4 linked regions of the Homo sapiens genome follow. The protein of the gene in region 2 interacts with the protein of the main gene of each other region in a biochemical or structural test. Each region holds a gene or a part of one and is shown on either strand. Other genes may lie near its edges.

Region 1 (7,509 bases), on a different chromosome or scaffold from region 2:
GAGCAAGGGATGGAGAGGTTAGGACAGGACATAATGTTTTTGGCCCTGGGGTTAATTCTTTAGAACTATCATTTATGAGAAGCCTTAGATCTTTCACCTAATGCTGCTCTTCAATATTATCCCAACTATTAAAACAGAAATGTTGCTTTTAATAAAGTAAAACCACTGTTAAACAAAATATTAGTGATTGTTCCATGAGAGTAAATTTGAGAGTCTTTAGGAACATACTTTTCCAACTTCTTATCTAGTATCTCTACTGATGATTCATATTATTGATCTTGTTGACCATACATCATGCTTAGAAAACTTTGACGGTATATTCCACAAATGACTGGTGAGTAGGACAATGTATAATATAAGGTGTGTGGTTACCTGGTTATGAATGTCTTCTCATTAATGAAGATCCAAGAGGGGTACTGGTGAGCCATCATAGTCATCTTTTCCTCCTTTTTGAGATGGTCTGAGGATATCCTAAACATGAGAATAATATTAATGATTTGTTCCTATAATGCATTAAAAAATTAGTTTCTGATTTAAGTTGAGTGTTTTGTTGTGTCTCTAGAGTATAAGAAGGTTTTAGAAAGTTTTTAAGTAGTATGTCATGTGTGAGCAAAAATACAGAAAAATGTATTATGTAAATGAAAAACTACAGAAACAGTAACTCCAGACACGGATGGATTGAACAATTTGGTAAGTCTGTTTTAGATATATTTCTAGCAAAATAAATATGACTCTATTGATTTATATAATTCTGTATAAGGGAGCATATTCCTTCTATTGCAATAACTCACCCAAACTGGCTGAACCTTGCCCCAATCAGCAGAAGACAACTGCAATTCTAGGCAGCTAAAATCAAGCTCTGACTTGAAGAGTTGATTAGGTATGATGTAATATTTTTCAAGTCTCCTTCAAGCTCTGGAAACTGTGGTCAGATGTGAATAATCTCCTCCTTTATATGTTCATATAAATGGCATTAGGGTGTGACCAGAGATGTAAAGTATAATATTTTCTGTTCATTCCATTTTGCAAAAATTGAATATTCAGTTATCATGGCTCCAAGTCTATAAGATTTTAGGGGATAGAGCCAGAATAAAAAAGATGGATGAGAGAGTTCAGTTTTCTTTTTTTTTTTTTTTTAAAAAAAAAAACGTTGTGTATAAGGGGGTGGATTTCCTCCTTTTCCTTTCAAATCTGGTTATTTGGGTTGGGTAAGATGAATAAAAATTAGGAAATTATATGTCCTAACTCTTCAGAGTACCAGGAAAAAAAGAAAACAGGAAAGCTATTCTTCTATTCTCATAAAATCTCTGATGCATATTTTTCTTTATAGCATGTTGTTAAACTCACTAGGTACTTTGTTACAGTTTTCAGGGTGAATGCTTGGCTGGAGTCTCATTTTAGGCTTTTATCATTCCGATCATCCCATCACCTATTTGGTCACAAACCATCTTGGTATCTTTCTTAATAAATACAGCCCAAGTCCCTTAACCTGACTCTCAAGTTTTCTTCAATTCCACTCAAACCTACCTTTCCAGGCTCCAAATTGAAACATTTCTTCAACACCAGGCCTTGTAATCTAATGAAATTTCATGTCATTGAGTCTTTTCTCACCCATTTCCCCTGGCAGCAGAGGGCCCTCCTCACTGCAGGTCCAGATATCTGGTCCCTTTTAGTCCCCAGTGGGAAATCTTAAAGTCTCCCCATGTCCTTTGAATCCACACTGTTGTCATCATTCTGCTTTCTACCTTGTATTGTCATTATTGATTTATACCTTACTTTCTTTTCTATTGCTATCTTCTTGCTCAAAGAATTGTGCTTCTCTAGTTGGAAATGGCATCCTCTGATAGCACATCATTGGCAGGTCTCATGCAGGACACCTGGAGGACTCATACCAGAGACACAGAAGCTTAGTCACCAGGCAAAGTAATTCTATACGTCAGAAGCCACATGGGCATTTTATGCTGCCTTGGGCACACAGACACAACATGCTCCATGAGCCCAGTGAATCCCAGTTACTTATTCACAGGATTTGGTCTGGGCAACTTGGTTATACAGGTTACACAGGTTCCTCCAGCTTCTCAAACTTGAGTTTTGCCCCTGGATTTTGTCATTCTAATAACCCACCAAAAGGGTTATTAATGTCCCCGACTGAAATCCCCCAGTGATGACCCTGGGGTCCAAACACTTCCTTCTTCCTCCTGGGTCCAGATTATTTATCATATATTCCTTTAATTTAGCCCTACCTCCACCTCTCCATCCATGTTCCAAGAGCCTATACCTTGCCAAAGAGTTCACTTCTCTCCTCATTTCTCGGCCTCTTAGCAACATTTGACAAGATTGATTTTCCTACCTTTTAAAACACTTTCTTCTTGATGCTTTTGAGACAAACCATGAATAACAATCACCTCACTCTATTTTCCTGCTATCTCACAGGCCTCAACACTAGTCTCCTTTGCTGATTCCTCCTTTGTATGATCACTAAATACTGGCTTGTTTGAGTGTCCATTCTCAGCCATCCTTTCTTCTCTATCTATACATTCTTCCAGGTAATCGAATCTGTCTCCATCCCATAATCTCTGTTGAGCTCCAGACGCATGTCACCACCTACCTAATCTCTACTTAGATGTGTACCAGGCATCTCGATATCTACATGGCTGAAAAAGAACCACTGACTTTCTCCCATGCTCTAAAATTTCCTCCTCCACAATTCTTTCCCATCTAGGCATCAAAACTAATATTTAGTCTCATTTTTTCCCTCTTTCATCATAAGCCAAATTCAATCCAAAAGTAAGTCCTATTCACTGTACCACTAACATATTCCAAATTCGAAAGCTTTGATTTCCACTGCTACTACCCTAAGCCAAGCCACCATCATCTTTTTCCTGGATTATTGCGTCAGCCTACTAGAGGGCCTCCCTCTGTTGTGGTCTGAATGTTTGTGTCCCCACAAAACCTAGATGTTGAAACTTAACCCCCAATGCAATAGTATTAACAGGTGAGGACTTTAGGAGGTGATTAGTTCATGATGGTGGAGACTTCATGAATGTGGTTAGTGCCCTTATAAAAGAGACCCCAGAAGCTGCCTGGACCCTTCCACCATGTCAGAGCATAGCAAAAAGACCATCTAAGAACCAGACAGCTTGCTTCCCTCACCAGACACTGGGGATATTTGGAACTGAAGAACCACTGATAGCAGCTTCTTATAATTACAAAGTGAAAATTGGCAGTGATGGACTGAAAAATCATTGCAGTAGCTTTCCAACTGGCTCACTCTTTATTTGCATTCATAAGAAATATCAAAGATATCATTAAAGAGGGCAAATAATTGCAATGTAGTTATAGTGACACACTGTTGATCTATGCTGAGGTAACTCATAGCCAGCTTCAGAAGACTTCAGAAGATGTGATGAAAGGGTTTCCAAGGCTCTTATATTATTTTCTGACTTTAGGAAGGAAGAAAGTTGAATATAATTTAATGTAAGAAAATAAAAACAGGATAAAATTTTCATTCATAGGCAGCACATAATATTTGAGTAGGAAATAATATTATTCATGTCTGATCTAAAAATTGGGTAAATAAAATATTCAAACAGTTTAAATACCTGAAAGGTAAGAACATGCTTTGGTAAAAGTCCCATTGTTAGTATTAACAGTGAAGTGAAATACAAAAGTTAGCCGGGTGTGGTGGAACACACTTTTAATCCCAGCTACCTGGGAGGCTGAGGCCCGAGAATCACTTAAACCTGGGAGATGGAGGTTGCAGTGAGCCAAGATTGTGTCCCTGCACTCCAGCCTGGGTGATAGAGTGTGACTCTGTCTCAAAAAAAAAAAAAAAAAAAGAGCAAAACAAATAAACAAACAAAAACAATGAAGTGAGGCATAGATCTATGAATTCAAATAGTTTTTCATCCTCATCTTCCCATTCCCATTCACCATGATTCATAGCAAACTAAAACCTGCTAGGGCCCTTGTGAAAATCTCCTAAATTATAAAGACTTGGTAGATATAAGCATCTGAGCAAATTTTCTCAAGGACTTAAGAGGAGAATAACAGAGAAGTCATGAATAGCAACGAGGGAGAGAATTTATGAAGAAAGAAAAAATTACAGTTCTAGAAGCCTGGAGGTCTTACTTGGGATGTTCAGTAATTTTGGTAGAACATAATAAACTACAACTTGAGGAGGAAGATGGTTGTTACAAATCTATGTAGGCCCTGGGGCCAGAGATTATTGACTTAGATTGTGTGTAAAATAAGATCATTATTTAATAAGTTTGGTTATTTACTTTTTCATTTTGTCCAGAAACAATGAAGCTGGAGAAACAGGGAATTAGATAGGTCAGCAATTAAGTCCTGGAGAAATCAACAGCACTAGAAGTATAGGAGAGGTAGAATTGGTCTGAACAAGCCAATGAGATCTGGATGGAGCCTGAGGAGGCAGTGTTGGGCAGCATTAGCGTTCCAGCAATGCTGGAACGTGGTTCACCTCCCCCTGCTCTGCATTCCTGCCTAGAGGTGGGCTTGCCTGGACTTACCAGTTGCCTTGTGACCAGAATGAGGCCAGAGGACAGGAAGTGAATTCTAGTACAAATTAAATCAAATGGGTCAGTCATTTAAAGTAACTTCCTGTTATCCAACCATGAGTTAATTAAATGGTTACATATCTAAAAGTGGAAAATTGGGTTCACTCGTTTGTAAATTCAACAAATATTTCACGAGTTCCTTCTCTGCACCTGCTACCGTGCTAGGCACAGAAAGTATAGCCTGTATCTATATCTATAGCCTCTTATTTCTGAGGCCACAAGGTGCACAAAGTGTCATAATGCTAATGATTTTACAAAGAACTAATATATATACATATATCTATATCTATCTATCTATCTATCTATCTATCTATCTATCTATCTATCTATACATATATATACAGGTGCTAACTTCCCTGTATTTCCCAGCCAAAGACAATTTCTCTTGCTTCTGAAATTTCACAGGAAATTTTCTGTAGCTTTCTAATTACTTACTGCTTTCTCTCTCTAACCATATTTTATTTTACTTAATTTGATTACTAGGTCCTTTAGGACAGAATTATTGCTATTTCATTTTTGTGTCTTCTAAAGTGAGTGAATATATGCAGGCATATAGATAAAACATACACAAAATATTGAATACATCCAACATACAGAGAGGTATATTATAATATTAATGGTAAAATTAAGAGCTAAGAGATTATGTGTGATAATTATTTCTTTTTTTATTTTGTATGTACTGTCTAAATCATAGACAAGGAATATATGTTACATCTCTCTCACCCACGTCCCCAGTAAAAGCTACTTAAAAAAAGAACAGAAAGTATCACACTAGAATAGCAAGTGTGTATTTCAATTATGAGATAAGAGTATGTTAAGGGCTGTACACACGGAGAGTCTTTTTAATAAAATATTGTTTCAGCTTGAAGAAGCAATAGAAAGTTACAATTATGTATTCATCTCCAAAACGAAACTGTTTTCTCAAAGTTATGACCTGGAACCTTGGAGTAGAGAAGAGCAGAGTTATATGCAATTACATCACTTCAAGAAAATGAGACAAAGCATCTATAATTCCATCCAGTATCTAGTTCTCTCAAAAAAGGAAAAGAGTTAACAGAGTGATGGTTTCTGGGAAACATTTGGCTCCATACTTTTTCTTAAAATGTGCTTTATTTGCAGAGACAGTAAAGGTCAAGAGTTGGCATATATACAAACTATCACTTAATTAAGTAATATTGGTTGCAGTCAGTGATTGTTGGTTTTGAGATAGAAATAATGTATTATAATCATTGAATCTAAGAGAGGACTAAGCAGAATATGAATCAAACACACTTCTATGTGAGCATGCCACTGCCCTCAGTTCAAGTGGAATCTAATTGGAAATGCCAAAACTTTACTGTTCTATTGCATATTTACATGGTACTAATGCCATGCATTTTATTCTGCTCAAGGTGCCCTCAGGGAGATAAAGAAAGCAGAAACGGTCAGAGAAGCAAATTTGTATTAAGGCACTTAAGGCATCTTGCCACCACTGGGTCTGGGAGGCGCTGCTCAGTCTGCCGACAGCATCTTCTGGAATTACTGGTGTGGTGGAACTCAAAAATTTTCTGCTTCACCTGAGCTTCCCAGTAGAAATTCTTAGGCTGACGTCACAAAGATCACGACTCATTTTTCCTGTTTGTATATTTGCTGCAAAAGAATCGACACTCTCTCCTCTTAAGCTCCTTTACTAGGCTCTAGGTGATGATGAAGTTTTCCTTTAAGTTAACATCCTTATTACTTAAATAGGAGACACTTCATGTTCTACTCCTGAAAGCAGTGGTATTAGTTAAGTTTGGTTGTTGAGATTATGTTATGAAAGTGATGAAATCACTATAATTTATCATTTTAAACATACAAATTAATTTTTGCAACAGAATAACTCTCTAACTGTAATGTGAAAGGAAAATATTCAGAATTCCTTTCTCAGAGGTTTTGTTTTCAAATGGCCTATACTTGAATATTTTAAAAATCTAAGCTTTTATATGAAGCCCATGTAACTCTAGTAACCGTGAATTCCCCACCTACATTGCAATCAATGAATCTATATAAGCAAATGGACTGTCAGCATTGGGTTTCTATCTCAGTTAAAAGTAAAGGATCCTTCTTATTTTAGGAAATTAAAACAAGAATCAGGTATAGAACTTTTAATTACATGCTTAAAAGACTTGTTACATACATGTTACACTATTTTGAATATAACTGGAAAAGTTAATTTTTTCGTAATCATTGCTGGGTCTCTCTGTGTCACTCTTTTCTCTCTTTCTCTCTCTCTCTGATTGACCACAACATTTAATAGTTTATAATAAAATGTTATACACGTGAGAAATAGTAGAATAAATGTAAATTCAACACAATATTCTAATGTATAGATATAAAGTTGTTATCTATCTATCTATCTATCTAAACAGATTTTAACTAGAAAGACTTCCACCCAGTTACGGTTAAGTAGATTAATCTCAAATCAATTTCAAATATGGTTAAATAAATTTATCTCAATTGGGGCTACTATTCTTTATTTAGACATATGTCTATCAATAAATATAAAGGCAAATAACTTTGTTTAAGGATGTATAACAATATGGAAATTCAGCATAAAAGCATATTTCCTCTTTGAAAAATCTTTAATGAATATTGGAACCCTAACTTATTCTAATTCAATTTGATTCCTTTATAAGTTTTTAGCTAAACTGTACTAAACACAATCAGACCCCAGAGGGAAATAACATAGTAAACTTCAGTTAGGTTGGGTTTAGAATTCTATCCACAATTCTCCAGTCAATATCTAATTGTAAGCACACTGAAGAATTTCAACTCTGCAATTTGAAAAAAGAATCCATTAAAACACCAATGATATTAAGTTAGAGTATACTGCAAACTCTTTGACTGCTTTATTTAATAAAATAACAAGATAAAAATGAAGTCAATGGAAATTACTAGTCATAGACAC
Region 2 (7,509 bases):
TGAAGACTCTTCACTTGTCCTGGCTGGGCCACCACCTCAGCTCCACCTAAAACTGGGCTGTGTTCTCTTCCCCCCTCCATCCCTGCCTTTTTTTTTTTTTTTTTTTTTTTGAGACAGAGTCTTGTTTTGTTGCCCAGGCTGGAGTGCAGTGGTGCAAACATGGCTCACTGCAGCCTTGATCTCTTGGGCTCAAAGGATCCTCCCACCTCAGCCTCCTGAGTAGCTGGGACTATAGGTGCATGCCACCATGCCCAACTAATTTTTTTTTTTTTTTTTGAGATGGAGTTTCGCTCTTGTTGCCCAGGCTGGGGTGCAATGGTGCAATCTCGGCTCACTGCAACCTCTGCCTCCTGGGTTCAAGCAATTCTCCTGCCTCAACCCCCCAAGTAGCTGGGATTTCAGGCATGTGCCATCACACCTGGCTAATTTTGTATTGTTAGTAGAGATGGGGTTTCACTATGTCAGTCAGGCTGTTCTCAAACTCCTGACCTCAGGAGATCCTCCTGCCTCGGCCTCCCAGAGGGCTGGGATTACAGGTGTGAGCCACTGTGCCTGGCCTGCCAATTTTTTTTTTTTTTTTTTTTGGAGACAAAGTCTCGCTCTTTCCCAGGCTGGAGTGGAATGGCACCACCTCGGCTCACTGCAACCTCTGCCTTTCGGGTTCAAGCGATTCTCCTGCCTCAGTCTCCCAAGTAGCTAGGACTACAGGCATGTGCCACCACGCCCGGCTAATTTTTGTATTTTTAGTAGAGACGAGTTTTCACCATGTTGGCCAGACTGGTCTTGAACTCCTAACTTCAGGTGATCCACCCGCCTCTGCCTCCCAAAGTGCTGGGATTACAGGCATGAGCCACCACACCTGGCCTCTGCCCAACTAATTAAAAAAAAATTTTTGTAGAGACAGGATCTCACTATGTTGTCCAGACTGGTCTTGAACTCCTGGGCTTAAGGGATCGTCCTGTCTCAGCCTCCCAGAGTGCTGGGATCACAGGCATGAGCCACCACACTCATCCTTGTCTTCTGGTCAGGGAAGACTAACTCCTCTTACCTTGACTATTTCCCCAGGGCCCCAGACACACATCGCCACGCAGGACCTGGGTGGGGAGTACGGAATTTATTTTATTGTTCTGCGTCTGGGTTTGGTTCCTTGGACGTCACGGTTCCTGGATGGGGGTGGGTGGGTCCCACCTCCCTAAGTCATGGTCCCACGGGCCTGTTGGGATTGTTTTCCAGGTTCAAAGTGCACTGAGAAAGCTTCACAGTTTTAATACTTCCTAGATGCTCAACTGAGGCAAAGTGACAAAATGGCCCTCCCACCCCCGCCCGCCACAAAAATAAAATCCCAAGCCCCTGGCAGCTGCTGCTGCAGCCGTATGAAAAAATAATACAAACTCTTCTTAAAAAATAGATTACACAGAAAAAACGCAGAGGACAGAGGGGCATGAGGAGGGGCAGGGAGCCTTGGGGGAGAGGCCCGGGAAGGGGCTCTGAGATGACTGCAGGGGCTGAGCTGCTGGTGGACACCTGCCCGGTCCACTGTGCCTATCCTCTCACTGCCGGAGCCGGCTCCTCCCCATCGCCGGCCAGGGCACCGCAGCTCCACGCTCCCTCAAGGGACCCCCTTCACCCTGAGGCTTGGTACCTGCTTCTCACTAAAGTGGCTTTAAGAAAGAAACAAAAAAAAGACCCAAAGCGAGAGAAGGGGCTGTTTGCTCAGCCACTGGGGACCTCCGCCCCATGGGATCAGCCCTCTCTCTGCTTTGGGGGTTTGGAGAGTCCTCGATACCTGTTGCTACCTAGACACCCCCTGGGGGGAAAACGGGCCCCAGACTCCCCATTTGGTTCCTGGGAACACAGACACCTGGAACTTGGCCTCTGCCCTGATGTGCGCCCTCCCACGCACCCAAGCGTTATATGGGGCATGGTTCGGAGGCTGCCTCCTGGCCCAGCCTCCAGGGAGCTATGGACCAGACAGGTGGAGCGTGAACAGGGTTGCTGGGGCAGCGGCGTGTGGAAAGGGGCGTAACTCACACAGGCCCTCCAGCTCATGCAAGGAGAAGCAAGAGGGGACAGCCCTGCCAAGACAGAGGTTACAGCAGGGCGAGAGCATGGTGTGTGTGTGCAGCTGGGCCGGCTCTGGGCCACGGCAGAGAGAAGGCAGGGGAAGCGGTCCACGGGGTGGGAGAAGGCAAGTCAGGGCCTGGCTCTGAGGAGAAGCCTGGGTCCCCACTGTCCCAGCTGAGGGCCACCTCCCGCGGAGGAATCTGGTGGGGGTGGATTCTCCAGAGGTGGGGACAGGGGCAGCTGAGTGGCCCTGGCTCAGTCGGGGACCTCAGGGTGGGCAGGCAGTCCGCTCTCGCCGCGCCGGTAGGTCTCCCAGAAACCTCTGTCCAGCTGCTCCAGCTGTGGGCCCAGTGGCAGGTGGCCGGCCAGGTGCATGCGGAGGGTCTCCAGCCAGTGTTCCAGCTTCACAAAGGATGGCCTGGGTGACAGGTGGGTGGGGAACGGTGGGTCTGGCTGTCCCGGGAATCGGCCCCACCGTCTCCCAGGCCAGGGCCCCACCCCACTCACCTCTTCTCGGGGTCCAGATCGCAACAGCGCACGGTGATGGGGAAGAAGCTCGGGGGGCAGTTTGGGGGGCAGTAGCGGTCCAGGAATCCTCGCACGTTGAGGCCAAAGTCCATGGTGCGGGGCAGGTAGTCAGGGTCTGCGTTCACCCGCCCGATGATCTGTCCAGTACAAGGCCCGGCAGTTACTCCAGGGGGCCCTCAGCCTGGGCATCTGGGTGCCATCCAGGTGGTTTGAGGGCAGGTGGCACTGGGCCTGGCTGCAGCCTGACTGCAGTACCCCATGGGGGCCAGCCCATGCCTTGCTGTGGGCAGGCTTCCTGGCATGAGGCCCCTGCAGATGCTGAGCCTGCAGCCTGGGTGAGTGGGGAGGAGCCCAGGCCTCAACACCGCTGCTACCCAACCCTGGACCTACCTCGCACAGGACGATCCCAAAGGAGAACACATCCACCTTCTCATCATAGCTGCGGCCTGGATAAAGAGACCGACTGTCAGCAGATGAACACATGGGGGTGCCAGGGATGCCAAAAGGCAGGGGACCAGGCCAGCTGGGAGGATGCCCCGGCCGGGAGGTCCAGGCCCAGGAGGCAGATGCCGGCAACCTCTATGGGAACCCAGGCTTAGGCTCTTTCCCCCAACCCCACCAGGTCTGAGCAAGCCTTTGGGAGCTCTGAGGAGCAAGGGGCAGAGCCCTGGACAAGGAGTTCGAGGCACCGATCAGCTGCGTGACTTTGCACAAGTCATGAACTCTGTGCTGGTCCCAAAAGGGAACCATGTCAGGTCTCTGGAATCTGTGAATGTTACTGGGTCAGAAAAAGGGTCTTTTGCAGATGGGATTAAGTTAAGGATCTGGAGATGAGATGATGCTGGATGATCTGGGTGGGCCCCAAATGCCACTGCAAATGCCCTCTTGAGAGAGACACAGAGAAGACACAGCAGAAGAGGAGGAGGTGGCCCTGTGAAGACAGGGGTGGAGACTGGAGTGATGCGGCCACAAGCCCAGGAATGCAAAACAACCAGAAGGTGGAAGAGGCAAGGAATGCATTCTCCCCTAGATCGCCCTGGAGGGAGCGCAGCCCTGTTGGATTTCAACCTTCTGGCTTCCAAAACTAAGAGGGAATAAATTTCTGCTGTTTATTTTATCTTGAGATGGAGTCTTGCTTTGTTGTCCAGGCAAGAGTGCAGTGGTACGATTGTGGCTCACTGCAACCTCTGCCTCCTGGGTTCAAGCGATTCTCCTGCCTCAATTTCCCGAGTAGCTGGGATTACAGGCGCCTGCCACCATGCCCAGCTAATTTTTGTACTTTTAGTAGAGATGGTGTTTCACCATGTTGGCCAGGCTGGTCTCGAACTCCTGACCTCCAGTGATCTGCCCGCCTCGGCCTCCCAAAGTGCTGGGATTACAGGTGTGAGCCACTGTGCCTGACCATTTTCTGCTGTTTTAAATAATCAAGTTTCTAACAATTTATTACAGCAACCTCAGGAAACTGACACAGACTCTCTGAGCCTCAGTTTCCTTATTGTAAAATGGGAATGATACCAGCTACTTAATGATGTTAAAAATAATCGGTACATGGCCGGGCACAGTGGTTCACACCTGTAATCCCAGCACTTTGGGAGGCCGAGGCGGGTGGATCACCTGAGGTCAGGAGTTCAAGATCAGCCTGGCCAACATGGTGAAACCCCATCTCTACTAAAAATAGAAAAATTAGCCAGGCATGGTGGCAGGTGCCTGTAATCCCAGCTACTAGGGAAACTGAGGCAGGAGAATCACTTGAACCCAGGAGGTGGAGGTTGCAGTGAGCCGAGATCACGCCACTGTACTCCAGCCTGGGTGACAATGCAAGACTCCATCTCAAAAACAAAAAACTGGCCGGGCACGGTGGCTCACACCTGTAATCCCAGCACTTTGGGAGGCTGAGGCGGGTGGATCACGAGGTCAGGAGATCGAGATCATGGTGAAACCCCGTCTCTACTAAAAATACAAAAAATTAGCCAGGCGTGGTGGCGGGCGCCTGTAGTCCCAGCTACGTGGGAGGCTGAGGCAGGAGAATGGTGTGAACCCGGGAGGCGGAGCTTGCAGTGAGCCGAGATCGCACCATGCATTCTAGCCTGGATGACAGAGCAAGACTCGGTCTCAGAAAAAACAAAAAACAAAAAACAAAAAACAAAATACCCGAAACAATTAGTACTAAATGTCAATTCTCATTTACTGAATGCCAACTAGGTGGAAATGAGTTTACAACCTTTAATCCTCACACTAATCCCTAAACATAGGAAACACTAAGACTTTTTTGTTTTTTGAGACAGAGTCTTGCTCTGTCGCCCACTGCAACCTCTGCCTCCTGGGTTCAAGCAACTCTCCTGCCTCTGCCTCCTGGGTTCAAGCAACTCTCCTGCCTCAGCCTCCTGAGTAGCTGGGATTACGGGCGCCCGAAACCATGTCCAGCTAATTTTTGTATTTTTAGTAGAGATGGGGTTTCACTGTGTTGGCCAGGCTGGTCTCAAACTCCTGACCTCATGATCCACCTGCCTCGGCCTCCCAAAGTGCTGGGATTACAAGCGTGAACCACTGCGCCCGGCCACTAAGACTGTTTTATAGTCTTCTTTGCGGGCTATGTTAACTCTGTGTGTGTGTGTGTGTGTGTGTGTGTGTGTGTGTGTGTGTGTGTGTGTTTGACACAGAGTCCCACTCTGTCGTCAGGCTGGAGTACAGTGGTGCGATCTCGGCTCACTGCAAGCTCCGCCTCCTGGGTTCACATCATTCTCCTGCCTCAGCCTCCCGGGTAGCTGGGACTACAGACGCGTGCAACCACGCCCAGCTAATTTTTTTGTATTTTTAGTAGAGATGGGGTTTCATCATGTTGACCAGGATGGTCTCAATCTCTTGACCTCGTGATCCGCCCACCTCAGCCTCCCAAAGTGCTGGGATTACAGGAAGGTTTTTTTTTTTTTCTTTTTGAGACACAGTCTTCCTCTGTTGCCCAGGCTGGAGTGCAGTGGTGCAATCTTGGCCCAATGTAACCTCTGCTCCTGGGTTCAAGTGATTCTCCTGCCTCAGCCTCCCTAGTAGCTGTGCCACCACACCCGGGTAATTTTTGTATTTTCAGTAGAGACAGCGTTTCACCATGTTGGCCAGGCTGGTCTCGAACTCCTGGCCTCAAGCAATCCGCCTGCTTCAGCCTCCCAAAGTGCTGGAATTACAGGTGTGAGCCACTGTGCCTGGCCTATTTTTTGTTTTCTTGAGACAGGGTCTCACTCCGTTGCCCAGGCTAGAAGGCAGTGGTATGATCATAGCTCACTGCAGCCTTGATCTCCTTGGCTCAAGTAAATCTCCCGCTTTGGCTTCCTGAGTAGCTGGGACCACAGGCATTAGGCACCACGCCACATGCCAGGCTAATTTAACTAGGTTAACTATGATGAGGTGATGGCTGGGGTCTGCCTGCCCTGAACCTGTGTTCATGTGTCACCTGCTTGTAGAAGGACTTTATAACCTATAATCTGGGCATATATAGGACCATTGACAGCAAAGAAATGGACTGAGGGAAGCAGACCCTGTGGGAGGCAGAACTATGATCCCCAAAGATGACTGCGTCCTGATCCCTGGGACTTGTATACGTCCCACCTTCCATCGGACTCTGCAGATGGGATTAAGTTGAGGGTCTTGAGATGGAGGGCTGCTTTTGGATTATCCAGGTGGGCCCAATGTCACCGTAAGGGTCCCTATCAGAAGGATGGAGGGCCATGGTGGCTCATGCCTGGAATCCCAGCACTTTGAAAGGTCAAGGCAGGAGGATCGCCTGAAGCCAGGAGTTTGAGACCAGCCTGGGCAACATAGTGATACCCCCGTCTCTATTAAAAATTTAAAAAATTGGCCAGGCGCGGTGGCTCACGCCTGTAATCCCAGCACTTTGGGAGGCCGAGACGGGCGGATCACGAGGTCAGGAGATCGACACCATCTTGGCTAACACGGTGAAACCCCGTTTCTACTAAAAATACAAAAAATTAGCCAGGCGTGTTGGCGGGCGCCTGTAGTCCCAGCTACTCGGGAGGCTGAGGCAGGAGAATGGCGTGAACCCAGGAGGCGGAGCTTGCAGTGAGCTGAGATCACGCCACTGCACTCTAGCCTGGGAGACACAGCGAGACTCTGTCTCAAAAAAAAATAAAAAATAAAAAATAAAAAAATTAGCTGGGTGTGGTGTTGCATGCCTGTGGTCCCAGCTATTCAGGAGGCTGGGGTGGGATGACAGTTTGAGCCCAGAAGGTTGAGGCTGCAGTGAGCTATGGTGGCACCACTGCACTCCAGCCTGAGTAACAGAGCGAGACCCTCTTTAAAAAAGAAAAAAAAAAGGAGGAAGGTTAGAGCCAGGGAAAGAGATGCGGGGATGGATGCAGAGATCAGAGAAGAGAAGATGCTTTGCAGCCAGCCCTGAAGACAGAGGAGGGGGCAGCAACAGGAGGAATGAGGAAGCCTCCACGAGCCAGAAAAGGTCAGGAAACAGGTGCCCCGGAGCCTGCAGAAGGAGCTCACCCTACCGGCGTCTTGATTTCAGCCCGGTGAGGCTGACGCTGGACTTCAGACTCCAGAACTGTATGATCATTTATTTAAGCCACTAAGTGTCTTCTATTTATTTATTTTTTGAGATGGAGTTTCGCTCGTCACCCAGGCTGGAGTGCAATGGCGCGATCTCGGCTCACTGCAACCTCTGCCTCCCAGGTTCAAGCGATTCTCCTGCCTCAGCTTCCCTAGTAGCTGGGATTACAGTACTACAGTACTGGGATTACACCCACCACCATGCCCAGCTAATTTTTGTATTTTTAGTAAAGAATGGGGGTTTCACCATGTTGGCTAGGCTGGTCTCCAACTACTGACCTCAGGTGATCCACTCACCTCAGCCTCCCAAAGTGCTGGGATTACAGGCGTGAGCCACCGTGCCTGGCT
Region 3 (7,509 bases), on a different chromosome or scaffold from region 2:
AAGCAGATCTGAGTAGAGCATTTCTCTGTCTCTCTGGGTTGGTGGTCAGCCGGGAAGCAGCCTAGGGCACCTGCACGGAGTCTGCGGGTGGAGCTGCCCTGAGCTCCATCCCTTCCCAGCACAGGGCATTTTGCTCTTGCCTGCAGGGCAGCATGGGCACACCTTCCTACCTGGAAGGAGCAGGGCTCTCTGGGAGCATCCCGTGTCACCAGATGCCCCAAAAGACGGGCCGCAACACCAGCAGTCCCCTGAACTGCTGAGAAACCTCCCTTTCTCCAGCCTCCTGCCTCCCCCTCATCTCTGCCTCTGGGTCCTTTGTTTCCATGTTCTATCTCCTCTTTATTACTTGCCTTTTTATACATTGTATATGTGGTCTCTAATGTAAAATTAAACAGGTAATTTGGTTAATCACTTACTATGAATAAAACTTCATTTTCTTTCTTGACCTTTGGAAAATTGGGGAGCTGAATATTAATCCCTTTACTCTTAAAGGAAGTGAATTGATGTAAACATAAATCGCTAGAATAACTCTTCTGGCCACCACGCCTCCCACCCCCCACCCCGTGCTGGCCTCCTTTCTTGGGGCTCAGTAGCTGCTGTGGTCGCTGCCTGCACCTCCTTCCCCAGCTGCACCCCCGGAAGTGGGGGTTGGACGCGGGGCAGCTGGGGCCGCACTGGCCTGGGTGCCTGTCTCAGGTGAGTTCGGAGGGGATGGGAGAGGAAAGGAGCAAAGTCTCCCTCGGGGCCAGTGGGGGAGAGCCCACCCACAGGAGATAGGAGATAGGGCTTTGGGGACTTCCTGAGGCTGTTGAGCGGGCAGCCACACTTTACCTCCAGAGTTTCTGAGCCAGGTCGCCTGCAGAGTGACAGGAAGTGGGGCCCTGGTTTGCTGGCCTCTGTCTGAATCATGCTAGACTGCTCTTAGAGGCCCAGCTCATTATAAATCCTGGCAGCCAAGAAGGAAAAAGGGCTGGATCCCCATACAAATTTTGTTCCTTAAATCTTTTCAGATTTAGCTAGATTCTCATGGTTCTTCCTCAAGTCATGGGCTCAAGAGTGAGGTTGCAAACACCTAGTTAATCCCCAGGCCTGTGCTGAATCCAGCCCACTCCTCTGAGGTCCCGGCTCCTGCCCGTTTCTGCACGCTTCTCTTTTTAGATCAATTTCTTTATCCTTCCTTTCTGCACTTATATTACTTGAACAAATGACAACGAAGAGGAGGGAGACTGTCTCTCCTGCCCTTTCTTCTTCCTCTCCTTCGCCTTCCTTGTCATTGTCATGCTCTTACCAAATTTCAGTAATTTCACCTCCACACCTGCTTTCAGATTCCTTTGTGGGGCCTTCTAATCTTCCTCTCTAACACTTCATTATCGCTGGTGTCATTTCCCCCCAAACTTTACATTGGTTTATTTATTGCTAATATAAATTACTAATTAGTTCGAACATATTAAAAAGCACAGATAATAATCTACAAGACAACTGGCTTATCCTTTTCATCAAAAAAAGTAACACATTCTGTTATTTGTATAAAATCTCAAAATATTTTTAAGAAATAAAACCATGCAGAGACAGCCAATTCCCTCCCCTCCCCGAGATTAGAAGATAACATTACCTGGCTTCTATATGTCATATAATCCCACGTAATCATGACCACATGTTCTTTTGTGGATTTGAAAATTTTAAAGAAATAGAATAATACTATATATATTCATTTGCAGTTTGCTGGTTTCCATTCAACACTGTTATTTAGAATTTTGTCCATGTTGATACACAAAGTCTGGGTAGTTTAACTGTTGTAAGTAAATCATAGCGTAAATCTATAGCCCTACTCATGGGGAATTAGTGTGTTTCCCTCCTTTTTTTTTGTATCAAAACTTTTACTCGATAAAATATGTACACCTAGTTCAGTAGTGCTGAGAGGGAATTCATACCCTGAAATACTTATATTAGAAAGCAGGAAAAGTCTCAAATCAATAATCTAAGATCTAATTCAAGAAACCAAAAAAAAAAGAGCTAAATATATACAAACAAAGTAGAAGGAAGGAAATACCCAAGAAAGAAATCCCCAGGCCCACATGGTTTCACCGGAAATTTCTACTAAAACAGTTAAGGAGAAATTTATGGCAATTTTATACAATCTCTTCCAAAAGTTAGAACAAGTGGGAACACTTTCTAACTCATTTTATGAGGCCAGTTATCCTGATACTGAAACTAGCAAAGACTATACAAAAAATGAGAACTATAGATCAATATCTCACAAACACTTAGAGGCAAAAGTCCTCAACAAAATATTAGTAAAGTGAATCTAGCAACACATAAAAAAGTTATATACATGGCTAAGTGGAATATATATCAGATACTCAAGGGTGGGTCAGCATTAGAGAGTCAGTCAATCAACTATCCATCATACCATGAAGTCAAAGAAGAAAAATCTCATGAACATATAAATTGTCCCAGAAAAGACATTTGACAAAATACAACACACATTCATGAATAGACATGGACTATTGACTTGATAAAGAACATCCATAAAAATCCTATAGCTACATCATAATTGGTGGTAAAAACTCAGTGCTTTGCCCTTTAGGTCAGAATAAGGCAAGTTCTTGCAACTCTTATTGAATATAGCACTGGACATTCTAACCAGTACGGTAAGATAAGAAAAAGAAATAAAAAGTATATAAATTGGAAAGAAGAAATAAAACTATCCAATTTGCAGATAACATGATGATCTACATAGACAATCCCAAGAAATCTACCAAAAAAAATCCTCCTAGATCTAATAAGGCAGCTCAGTAGGTTGCAGAATGTGGACTGACACATAAAAATTACTCACAGTTCTACCTACTCCACAATAAACGTGGAAACTGAAGTTAAGACACAATGCCATTTAGAAATGCCCCAAAGAAAATAAAACACTTATGTACACTGTAAAGAAATTTCAGATTCAGAATCTGTGCACTGAAATTTATAAAACATTGATGAAAGAAGTTAAAGAAGACCTAATTACCCATAGAGAGACAACCTGTGATCATGGATTGGAAAACTCAACACAGTAGAACTATTAATTCTCCCTAATCTATACATTTGAAGAAATTCCTATCAAAATCCCAGCAAGGTTTTTGCACCCATAAACGCGCTATTCTAAAATTCATATGGAAAGGCCCAGAACCTACAATAGCTAACATAAGTTTTATAAAGAATAATAAAGTGGAAGGAAGTCACTCCACCTGATTAAAGTTGACTATGCAACTACAGTAATCAAGACAGTGTGCTCTTGGCAGAGAGACTGACATATAGACTAATGGAACAGAATAGAGAACCCAGAAATAGACCCACAGCAATAAGTGGAAACGGTTTTTAGCAAAGGTGCAAAAGCAATTTAATGGAAGAAGGATCACCTTTTCAACTAATAGTCCCGGAGCTATTGGACATTCGTTGGCAAAACCCAAACCAAACCAAAACAAATAAGCCTCAACCTAAACCTCACACCTCATACAAAAATTAACTCAAAATGGAAAATAGGCTTAAGTATAAAATGTGAAACTATAAAATTTGTAGGGAAAAAAGGAGAAAATCTTCGGGAACCTCAGGCTAGGTGAAGACTTAGACTTCACACCAAAAATCAAAATCCAAAAAAGGTAAAATTAATAAACTTGAATTCAACAAAATGTAAAACTTTCTGCAAAGGACTCTGTGAAGAGGGTGAAAAAACAAGATAAAGTGGTAGAAAATAATCACCGAGTGGTAAGGCCAGCATCTAGAAAATATAAAGAATTAGGAAAACTCAGTTGTTAAAACCAAACAATCCAATTAAAAAGTAGGCAAAAGACATGAACAGACTTTTCACTGAGGAGGATACACAGATGGCCATAAGTACATAAAAAGGTCTTGATGTCATTAGCCATCAGGACAATGCAAATTAAACCATCAGGAGATATCACTACACACTTATTAGAAGAGCTAAAATAATAAAAAAAAAAAATAGTGGCAATACCAAATGCTGCCCAGGCTGGGAAGGTCCTGAATCACTCACACACCGCCGGTGGGAATGCAAAATGGTGTAGCCATTCTGGAAAAGAGTTAGCAGTTTCTCATAAAATTAGACATGTGCTAACCATATGACTCAGCAATTGCACTCCTGGGCATTTATCCCAGAGAAATGAAAACTATGTTCACACAAAAACCTGTACAAGAATGTTCACAGCAGCTCTATTTGCAATAACCAAAACCTGGAAATAATCCAAGTGCCCTTCCTGGGTGAACGGTTGAACACACCTTGGTTCATCCAGATGACGGAACACCACTAAGTAATTAAAAAGAAACACCTATGGACATGCTTGCCAACCCGGATGGGTCTCAAGGGAATTGCGTTTAGCGGAAAAAGCCAGTCTCGAAAGGTTGCATAGTGTATGATTCCATTTATAGAGCATTCTTAAAGCGACAAAATTATAGAAAATAGGAACCATACTGTGGTTGCCAGCCTCAGGGAGGGGGAAGGAGGAAGTCAGCTTGGCTATAAAGAGTAGCATCAAGGATCCTGTGATGAAACTCTCCTGTCCTCTGATGTGTTGGTGGTCACATGGTTCTACATGGGTGATAAAATTACAGAGAACTAAGCGCACGTGCATACCACACACACACACACACACACACACACACAGAGCAGTCTATAAAATGAGTACATGTAAACTGGTGGAATCTGAAATCTGAACAAAGTTAATGGGTTGTATCAATGCTCATTTTCTAGTTGTGGCATTGTACTATGGTTTTGTAAGATGTTATTGTTGGGAGAAACTGGTGAAGGGAATTGCATGTGAATCTACATGATCTCAAAACAGGGTTTTACTACATTGCTTCAGTGAATATCCACTGTGTGTGTCTTATGCACACAGACCAGGTTTTCCCTAGAGGAGATACCTAGAAGTGGAATTGTTAGATCTTAGGATACACCCACCTTCACTTTTTCTAGATTATTCTCTAACATCTTTGTTCCTATTTACATTCTAGTCGAACTCATGTGAGGTCTAAGTTTTCTACACCTTCTCTAATATTTGGTATAGTCACAATTTAAATTTTTTTCCAGTACCGTAAAGGTAAAAAAAAATCTTTTTGCCATCTTAGTTTTGAATTCCCTGATTCCCAGAGGGTTAAAGTCCTTTTCTTATTTTATCAGTCCATCTGGGTTTTCTCATTAGTCTCATATTTTACTCTTGAGTGGCTTGTTTCAAATTACCACATTTTAGAACTGTTTCTGTATTCTAGATCCTGGCCTCACATAGGTCTGTTTCTCCTCATCTTTTAGATATCCACCTATTTTTCACAATGGTGACTCAGACCAACGCAGTGCTATTCACAGAGTCCAGAACAAAAGAACATTCGGAATGACATTTTTACGCTTTAATGGCTATTGAGTGTGAGACATTACTAATAGCTTTGGAACATGCACTCGTGGTTGTTGCTGGCATGTGGGAGATGTTGCTGTGGAAGGCAGCTTCAGTCGGCCGGGGAGATCAGCTGCCTTCTGGCTGGCCTGTCCTACAGACGTCCCACAAACCTGGCCAGCCCACCTCTGCATAAGCCATTCCTTGCCATGAGTCTCTAATGTGTATCTCCACCTGCTTCTGTTTCTCTGGATGAAGCCTGTCCACTACAGGTTTTGACAGAGATTTAAAATCTCCTGTAGAGACTATTCCAGCTACTCGCCTGGCATTTCTGCTCAGCTGGCATTAGGGCCTGTGGCATGAGCACTCTTCCCTTAAACAGCTCCAGAGCTTCCTTCACGGGTTCCAATGGGCCAACAGAAGTGTCTTACTACTTAATGGCCACTTATTTAAAATTATCCCAAGAGTAATTAGAGGCCAGGCGCGGTGGCTCATGCCTGTAATCCCAGCACTTTGGGAGGCCGAGGTGGGTGGATCACTTGAGGTCAGGAGTTTGAGACCAGCCTGGCCAACATGGTGAGGCCCCATCTTTACTAAAAAACAAAAACAAACAAAAAAACGCAAAAATCAGCCAGGTGTGGTGGTGCGCCCCTATAGTCCCAGCTACTGGGGAGGCTGAGGCAGGAGACTGTTTTGGATCCAGAAGGTGGAGGTTGCAGTGAGCCGAGATTGCACCACTGCACTCCAGCCTGGGTGACAGAGCAAGACTCTGTCAAAAAAAAAAAAAAGAAAAAGAAAAGGAGTAATTAGAATATTTTCTTTTCTTTTTTATTGACAACTAAGAAAGCTAAGGAGAAGATGATGAACAAAGACGGATGACAGTAGCCTTATGGTGAAATCATTCTTGAAAGGAAACCTGTGTGGGACATCTCTGGGTACACTCACTCATCATTGGGGTGGAATTTTAAAAGGAGGAACGAGGAGCACCTTTGCAAGGCATCCTTCTCACCACGGCGGTGCAGAGCAGCAGTCAGGCGCTGGTGCAGACTCCCCGGATGGAATCCCGCCTCTTCTTGTGTGCCCTTAGAGTAACTTAACCTCTCTGGGCCTTGTTTCCTCAACAGTAAAAAATGAAGATATGAATAGGATGGTGACATCCAGTGAGGGCATCCTAGGGCCGTCCCGACTGTTATCCGAGGTGACAAACCGCTCTCAAAAGAGAGTCTGGCAACGTGCAAGCAGTCGATAAACACTCCCAGGCGACAGAAAAGGCACAGAGGCAGCTGCTCATCTTAAGCATGTCATATTTTTAAAGAACTTGGAGGAGGATTAAAAGTCAAACAAAATAACTTACAATTAACATTTACAAATTCAGGCAGAAATAGAAACATCACAAGAAAGTTTGGTCTCTTGTTTTTTTTTTTTCTTTTTTCCCCAGCGTTTCGTGGCTACCTTTAATCAGCGCACACAGCTAGGACCACCACTGACCAAACTCAAACCCGACGTTTTAAATCATGGAGGAGCCATGAGCTACCAGGTGTAAAACAAGCGACGTGTCTTACACTTTCTTATCTTTGGGCAGAACTGTGATACTTCTGGAGGATTTTCAAAGAGGATTTGAACAAAATAGCTTTGTTTAACCCGGAGTTAGTAGAAGTGGTTGTTTCAGAACAGTTAACTCCCTGGGAGTTACTCCAGCATTTACAGCAATTTTTAACTGTGTTCTTTTCCCTCAGATTTCTGTTTTTCCCACAAAAAAAAAAAAAAAACAAAACCTCAAAAAACAAAACACACACACGCGCGCACGCACGCGCACACACACACACACACACACACACACACACACACCCCCTCTGCCGCGGTACCCTTCCCCTGGCCTTCCTCCACTGAAGGGCGGCTGGGTTCCAGGCTCTCAGCCGTGACCACAGCCCCGGCCCCAACCGCTAAGGAGGTGCTCATCACTGGAGGTGGCCGCCAGGGAGCTCAGTGCGGGACCTGCTCAATCCATACGGTCCCCTGACTTGAGGGTGACCGTCCTTAAACTGTCCCCCGGAGCTTCGCCAGATAAAATGTCCAAAACACACACTGGAGTTCCCTGACGTTTCCTTCCTCTGAAAAACTCTCT
Region 4 (7,509 bases), on a different chromosome or scaffold from region 2:
TGCCACCACCACCCATCTCTACTAAAAATACAAAAATTAGGCTGGGCGCGGTGGCTCACGCCTGTAATCCCAGCACTTTGGGAGGCCGAGGCGGGTGGATCATGAGGTCAGGAGTTTAAGACCAGCCTGGCCAAGATAGTGAAATCCTGCCTCTACTAAAAATACAAAAATTAGCCGGGTGTGGTGGCGGGTGCCTATAATCCCAGCTACTTGGGAGGCTGAGGCAGAGAACTGCTTGAACCTGGGAGGCAGAGGTTGCAGTGAGCCAAGATCGTGCCACTGCACTCCAGCCTACCCGACAGAGTGAGATTCTGTCTCAAAAAAAAAAAAAAAAATTAGCTGGGCATAGTAGAGCACACCTGTAGTCCCAGCTACTCAGGAGGCTGAGTTGGGAGGATGGCTTCCACCCAGGAGGCAGAGAAGGTTACAGTGAACCAAGTTTGTGCCACTGCACTCCAGTCTGGGCAATAGAATCAGACCTTGTCTCAGAATAAAAAATAAAAATAAAAATGTGAAGCTTGTGCCTGCCAGAATCGTTACTTAAGTCCCCTCATTGGGAACCTGGGGGTTTTATAAGGCTGTCAGAGCTATTTGGCCTTTTTTTCCTTCTCTTTTTTTTTTCCTTTTGCTTTGGGGATTGCTTCAGAATGGAGCTGGTGGAAGACTGGGTTTGCCAACATTTTAGTGGAAGAATCTGGATCTTAACCTTCTACCGGGCCAGGAACGATAAGGTCAGGGACCACATCTGATTCCTCTCTGGGACTCTGGCACTCAGCACCAGCCTGGACGCAAGCCTGGGTTGAGGAAATCTTTGCTGAATGATATGGAACTGAATTGAATTGAATGAATTTCACCTGTCAAATTAGTTTAAGATTTCTTAGGATGAGCCACACTGCCATCTTGTGACAGAAGGAGGCCAAACTGCTGTGTTTGGGGTACATGCATTTTTGGAATATAAGTGCATCCAGCTGGCTGCAAGGAGACCTTGTTTACAAAATAGGATCTCCTGAGGACCTCTCCTTAGCAACACTTGGCCAGCAGTTCCCTCCTCACTAGTGTAGAAGTTTGAAAGCCATGAAGTCTGCATTTCTCCAAAAGCTCCTATAATTCAGGTGATCAGTAATTCAGACAGCTCTCTTGGGGGCCACTCCCTGTATCAGTGTAATCAGGCTTTGCTCTCTGTAAAGATCCCTGTCACTCAGGTGGGATGGAAGAGCAAGGTGAGGTTTGTTAAGGAGAAATTGTGTCTCCCAGCTCACACCTGAACCTGGCTATCTGAAATGACCACTAAGATTCCTTCCAACCCAGTGCCCTGTGATTCTGGTCAGTCAAGCCAATGGGCTCCAGGCCCTCCAGGAAGGTGGGTGAACCAGGTGGAAGGGAGGAATTTACCTGGATGCAAGATCTCCCAACAGGCTGGGTGGGTCAGAGGAGGCAGGAGAAGTGGTCAGGAGAGAGTTCAGAGAGGAAGAAAACAAAAAGCACATTCATTCACCACTTCTGCTGTCCCCCGGATAGAGAAGACCCACGGGACACACTCCCACCCACCCCCCTGCACAGCCCTGACTGCTCTTTCAGGGATACACCGAAATGGCATTAGCCCTGCCCCGAGGGACTGGGATCCAGACCCAGCTCAGCAAACCCCTGAGCCCCAGGATCCTCATCTGTCAAGGCAGTGTAAAAATTAACCCCAGTGCTGCCTGTCCCAAGGGAGGCCGGACTATCTAAAGGCAGAGGGAAGGACTCCGGGGTTGCCAAGAATGTTTGAGGGACTGTGGGTCCTGAAAGGTCACCAGACACAGGATTTGGGATTTGTAATTTTGAGATGTCCTATTATATAAGGTCAGGATTACATACTGCCACCTGCCAAGAGGCATTCTTCTAATAATCAAGGAGACCCAATGTCTAATGGGATTTAGCTTTTCAATCTTTTCATAGAAATTTATGAATTAAGTTACAAAAAAGAAACACAGTAGTTTGTTTGTTTGTTTTTCTCCCTGAGCTTCCACCAAACTATGCTCCAGGGCAGGGCAGTCTGGTCCACCACTATGACCTGAGTTAGGAGAGGAGATTTCAGGCAATGTTTGGGGCACTGTCTGGGCCTCTGTTTCACCATCTGTAAAATGGGAAAGCTGACTAGCAAATCCCCAATCCAGCTCTGGGTTCTGAGCCCTTTTAGCTGTTTCCTCAGAAAATCAGCTTGGGCATGCATGGGGGTGGGTGCTATGCCCAAAGTGTGATAAGGAGATGGCACCCCTGGGGACCCCACAGCAAAGACTCTGAGGACGCCGTCCCCTGGGCATGGCCAATCCTCAGTGCGAGCCCAGACCTAGGATAGAGGAGGAGGAGAGAGAGAAAGAGATGGGTGGGGGTAAGAGAGGGGCTGAGGGCCAAGGAAGGAAGAGAGGGAAAGCGGGCGGGGGAGAAAGAGGAACAGAAGGGAGGAAAAGAAGGGACAGGAGGTTCCTCCTCCAAGGTGGATGCAGCTAAAAGGGCTGCAAACAGGCAGAATGGGGCAGGGGCCTGTGGGCACCTGGGACGCTCCCCTCTGCACTCCGGGGTCTTGGGCTTGGCTGGAGCACTCACCCGCCCCGAGACACCACCAGCTTCACTTTCACTTTGTAGGAAACAATGATCCCCAGGATCTCACGGTTGGCACCTTCCCTCAACCTGCAAAGTGACACAGGGGAGCCAGTTCAGGGGCCTTGCCAGGTGGGCGAGACACCTCAGGGGTGGGTATGCTGGGGGGCAGTGGCCGTCCATCCCCCATCTGGCTAGCCACTCAGCTACCATGTCCAATAGAGCCCAGTGGAGATGAGGAAGGCGAGCAGTGCCCTTAGGTAGCAGGGACCCAGAGCCCCGGTTCCAAGTCTGACTGTGAGACTCGCTCACTGTGTGGCCCTGCTGAGCCCCTCTCCCTGCCCAGGCCAGCGTCCCCGCCATGAGGGCCAGGCTCCTCCTCCCCTCAGATGGATTCTGCTTCTCTCAGCAACCCATGGGCAGAAAGGGCCACACGGGGAGTTCACAGAGGGCGAGGCAGCTGGGGTGGGGTGGGGTGGGGGCCATCAGAGAAGGACTTCTCCGCAGAGGTGGTGCTTCAGCTGGGTCTTGAAGATGGGTAGGGTGTGAGCCAGGGTGGAGACAGGGCAAAAAGCTTCAGGTAAGTGGGAGGCTGTGCAGGGGCTGCTGAAGAGAGCTGAGTCTGTGCTGGGAGTGGCGGCTGCTCTAGACGTAGGCCAAAGCCCCACTGAAGGACCACACTGGCAAGAGGGCAAGATGGCATCCCCATAGCCAGGGCTCTGCTGGAGCAGAGTAGCCTAGAGGCGTCCACGATGACTGTGCAGCAGGAGTGACCAGATGCCCTGGGACCCCTGACTTGGAGGGGCACCCCATGTTGGGTCTAACCCAGCTCACCACCCTGGTCTCTCCTCAGGGACACCCCATCTGACTGAAGGCATTACGTCAGAAGCTGCCACCTCTTGCAGGAAGCCTTCCCAGGTTGCCCTCCCCCAGGCATGGTAGCAGAGCCCAGCACTGCCTGAGTGAGCTGGCCTAGTGGTCCATCTTATTCTCTCAGTCACCCCTGGGTAGGGTTGGGAGTAAGGAGGCAGCTTCCCTGACAAGTCAAGCACCTGAGGACAGGCCCTGACAAGGCTATGGAGAGGGTAGCCTGAGCCTTGTCTTTGAACTGGGGGGACCAAGGAGGGTGTGGCCCCATCAGGCAAGATGCACTAGGAGCCCAGGGCTAGGAGGGCAGGTCCTCACAGGGTGCTAGAGGCCAAGTTCGTGTCTTCGTGCTTGAGCTTCCCGTCCAAGGCGAGGCCCCGCTTCTCTCGGTTATTGGCTAGGAAGGGGGTCAGTGTGTAGACCTTGCAGAACGTCGAGCTGGGTGCCACAGTGTCACTGGGAAGAAAGGAAGCAGCTGTGGAGATGGCCCTCCCCAGAGCCAACCCCAGCCCTGATCTCCAGCCCAGCAGAATATCTAGTCTGAGCCTGCTCCAAGTCTCCCTCTCCCAACCTCTGTCCCCCAGACACACGGACCACTTGGGCCAGCCCAGCTCGGGCAAGGAGACCACTGCCACTCAAAAGAGGCACATCTACATTCTACGCACAAACAGGACTGAATCTCGGATATTCTAAAAGATTATCCTAGTCAAGCAGCACAGTGCTAAAAAGCACATTTATTTAAAGAATTACAGCCAGCCGGGTGCAGTGGCTCACGCCTGTAATCCCAGCATTTTGGGAGGCCGAGGCGGGTAGATCACGAGGTCAGGAGTTGGAGACCATCCTGGCTAACAAGGTGAAACCCCGTCTCTACTAAAAATACAAAAAAATTAGCCGGGCATGGTGGTGGACGCCTGTAGTTCCAGCTACTCAGGAGGCTGAGCCAGGAGAATGGCATGAACCTGGGAGGTGGAGCTTACAGTGAGCCGAGATTGCTCCACTGCACTCCAGCCTGGGTGACAGAGCAAGACTCCATCTCAAAAAAAAAAAAAAAAAAAGTACAGCCACAGCAGGCACAGTTGCTCATGCCTGTAATCCCAGCAACTTGAGAGGCTGACAGGAGGATTGCTTGAGGCTAGGAGTTTGAGACCAGCCTGGGCAACATAGCAAGACCCCATCGCTACAAAAAATTTTAAACATTAGCCTGATATGGTGGTGCACACCTGTAGTCCTAGCTACTTGGGAGGCTGAGGCAGGAGGATCACTTGAGCCCAGGAGTTCGAGGCTGGCTGTAGTGAGCCATGATCATACCACTGCACTCCAGCCTGGGCAACAGAGTGAAACTCTGTCTCTAAACAAATTTAATTTAAATTTATTTTATTTTATTTTATTTTATTTTATTTTATTTTTTTGAGACAGAGTCTTGCTCTGTCGCCCAGGCTAGAGTACAGTAGTGCGATCCTGGCTCACTGGAACCTCCACCTCCCAGGTTGAAGCAGTTCTCCTACCTCAGCCTCCCAAGTAGCTGGGATCACAGGGGCGCGCCACCATGCCCGACTAATTTTTGTATTTTTAGTAGAGATGAGGTTTTGCCATGTTGGCCAGGATGGTCTCAAACTCCTGACCTCAAGTGATCTGCCTGCCTCAGCCTCCCCAAGTGCTGGGATTATAGGCGTGAGCACCAGCCCTGTCTCTAAACACATTTTAAAAAGAAAAAATTATAGCTACACATAAACCATAAATGAAGCTATTTGGGCACCCATATACCCACCATCTAGGCTCAACAATTAAAACTTTACTTGCTTGATCACATCCATCATATATAGGGTGTTTTGATTGTCCAATTTTTACTTGCTTTTGCTCTATCCCCCATCCTTTCCAATGAGAGAGCTGTCATGCAGCAGATAGTGAACAAGCCTTGGAGTCGGACGACCGTGTTCCAGCCCCAGCTTTGCTGCTTGCTAACTTGCAAGTCACATCTCTCTGAGCCACTTCCTCCTCTACATACTGGGGCAGCAGCAACCCCAGCCCCACAGCGCTTCCTGAGAAGTAAACAAGTCTGTGAGTGCAAATGCCTCCCCAGCCATCCCTGCTGGTATTCGTTATGCAGACGCTGGCACCATCTGCAGTGGTTGGGATTTTCTACTCTTTAGGGATTATATGTTACTCTGGTTCTAGATCACTTCACTTTACCATCAGGAATCTATGCCTCATAGCTCTGATTTTTTTGAAAAAATCAACAGTGGATATGAAAAATATCCAGTAACCAGAGAAAGCTTGATCTAATCATAGCATGTTCACCTATAGGACATTAAAAACTATTTCAAAGGCCATGTAGTAACATTTTAAAAATATTTTCAGTTGCAAGAAATACTGATTGGAATTATACATAAACAAATACACATATACATGTAAAATTATATCAGGTATAATTGCCCCAAGAAATTACTTGCAGGGCCAGGAAAAAAAAATGTGTATGTCTTTGAATGGGAGCATTTACTTCCTTTAGGTAAGTAAAGATGTTTCACTTCAGATCTCTCCACTTGCCTTAGCTGCCAACAAGCCTGGGACAAAGTTCGATCCATGCTCAACCATAGCAGTTCTCCTCAAACCTAGATGATTTTTTTGTGTGTAATTATTCTCTGCACTCCCACACACAACCCCTTTTTCCCAATGAGTTGGATTACCCCTTTATCAGACAAGAGCTGTGTACCTAGTGCCTTACCCACTTTGCCCTGGCTACCAGGAAGCCAAGAACAAAGTATTTCCCTTCAACCTAGGTTTCTTGTACAACGTAATTATTTCTTCTCACAACCCCAATCCCCTTACATTCATTAGCTATTGTTTTGTCACTCTAGTTTTAGTGGGTCTCTTCCTTGACTGTAGCATGCATTTTCTTGAAGCTAAATCAGGTGGATGGTTTCTAAAAGGCTCTTCGGGATCATCTACTCTGAGTGGCAAGGAAGTCTGAGGCCCAGCCCTCTGCCAGGTGGAGAAGAGCCACCTGGACCTGTAACAGGACACCTAGAGCTTCTCTTTTTCCCACCCAATCCCATACGCCCAAGGCCAGACTTGTGCCCACTTACTCAGCCTCTTCCATGGCAACAGGGCACTTGTACTGAGCTGTGTTGAAAAGGCAGATGTCTGCATACTGGCGCACTAGGGAGGGAGAGGAATCAAGGTGGAGTGAGTCGGGAATGTAGCTCCCATGGAGTCTCACAGGCGTCCCCGGGTTGGGGATATTCAGCCCCAGGCAATGGCCAGAGGCCACCAGTGGGGACTTCTGCATAAGACCACCCCTGTCTTACATCCAAAGGGTAGCCCCAAACACACCCATTTCCTTCCATAACCAAAGCCTTCCCCTCAAGGACAGCTTTGTCCAGAACCCAAGAAACTGAAGAGGTGGCTTAAAGAGCAAACTCATTACCTAGCCAATAAGCAGCCTGCCTTACCCAACTCAAAAGCTTTGCCCTGTGGCTCAGAGCAGGCCCTGGGCTTCAGTGGCTATTTTTTATACAAGGCTGTTAACAAGGGGAGATACTTCAGCCACCCCCAGCCCTTGGGAAGATTGCCTCTCGCTGTCCCCTAAGCTGACCCTCTGTCTGGGATACCTGAGATCTTGATCTTCTTCACCGTCTTGTTGGTGTTGTTGGTGACGTGGACGTTGACGCTGATGGGTTCTCCATGGTAATAGATCTGGGGGGCATAAGAAGGGACGGGGTTGGCTGGGAGGACAGCAAGGTTCTAGGGAAAGGGGAGGGAGAAAAGCCCCCACGCGATCTTCTGGGGTTCCCCAGACCTTGCGCAGACCTTCAGAAGGGTCTGCTGCTCCCATCTGAAGTCCATCACATCCCTCAGGTTCATGCCCCCTCTGCCACTCCTTTAGGCCCAAGAGGCTTCTCCGAATCCCCCAAGGCATTGTGACATTTGCCCCAAGTTCATCAGCCACTTCCCACTGCTGCTAAGGTGGCATGAAAGCCACCAAGCACATTAGCCTTCAGTTCCCTGGTGGGACCCTTGAAAGATAACGGAATTGGAAGGTGATAGTCCTGGGCTCCAGCCCTG

Evidence for each region.
Region 1: the proteins of LIMK1 (region 2) and RASSF6 interact in a test that uses a peptide from one of them, tested with the Homo sapiens proteins (one large-scale study listed by IntAct).
Region 3: of the proteins of LIMK1 (region 2) and MBP, one has a biochemical effect on the other in vitro, tested with the Homo sapiens proteins (one study listed by BioGRID).
Region 4: the proteins of LIMK1 (region 2) and ARRB1 form a complex in vitro, tested with the Homo sapiens proteins (one study listed by BioGRID).

Annotation. Positions count from the first base shown.
Region 1 is NC_000004.12:73,611,359-73,618,867, forward strand, and holds part of RASSF6 (ras association domain-containing protein 6), read right to left. Parts: intron 4,579-7,509; coding exon of another isoform or gene 4,533-4,578; intron 1,886-4,532; exon of another isoform or gene 1,772-1,885; intron 472-1,771; coding exon of another isoform or gene 438-471; coding exon 373-437; intron 319-372; exon of another isoform or gene 1-318.
Region 2 is NC_000007.14:74,116,112-74,123,620, reverse strand, and holds the end of LIMK1 (LIM domain kinase 1), read right to left. Parts: intron 3,039-7,509; coding exon 2,983-3,038; intron 2,730-2,982; coding exon 2,572-2,729; intron 2,483-2,571; coding exon 2,320-2,482; 3' UTR 1,096-2,319; downstream 1-1,095. UniProt on the Homo sapiens protein: Serine/threonine-protein kinase that plays an essential role in the regulation of actin filament dynamics. Acts downstream of several Rho family GTPase signal transduction pathways.
Region 3 is NC_000018.10:77,123,889-77,131,397, forward strand, and holds part of MBP (Golli-MBP), read right to left. Parts: exon of another isoform or gene 4,472-7,509; intron 3,761-4,471; exon of another isoform or gene 1-3,760. UniProt on the Homo sapiens protein: The classic group of MBP isoforms (isoform 4-isoform 14) are with PLP the most abundant protein components of the myelin membrane in the CNS. They have a role in both its formation and stabilization.
Region 4 is NC_000011.10:75,270,309-75,277,817, forward strand, and holds part of ARRB1 (beta-arrestin-1), read right to left. Parts: intron 7,141-7,509; coding exon 7,056-7,140; intron 6,604-7,055; coding exon 6,531-6,603; intron 3,904-6,530; coding exon 3,766-3,903; intron 2,671-3,765; coding exon 2,587-2,670; intron 1,417-2,586; coding exon 1,393-1,416; intron 1-1,392. UniProt on the Homo sapiens protein: Functions in regulating agonist-mediated G-protein coupled receptor (GPCR) signaling by mediating both receptor desensitization and resensitization processes.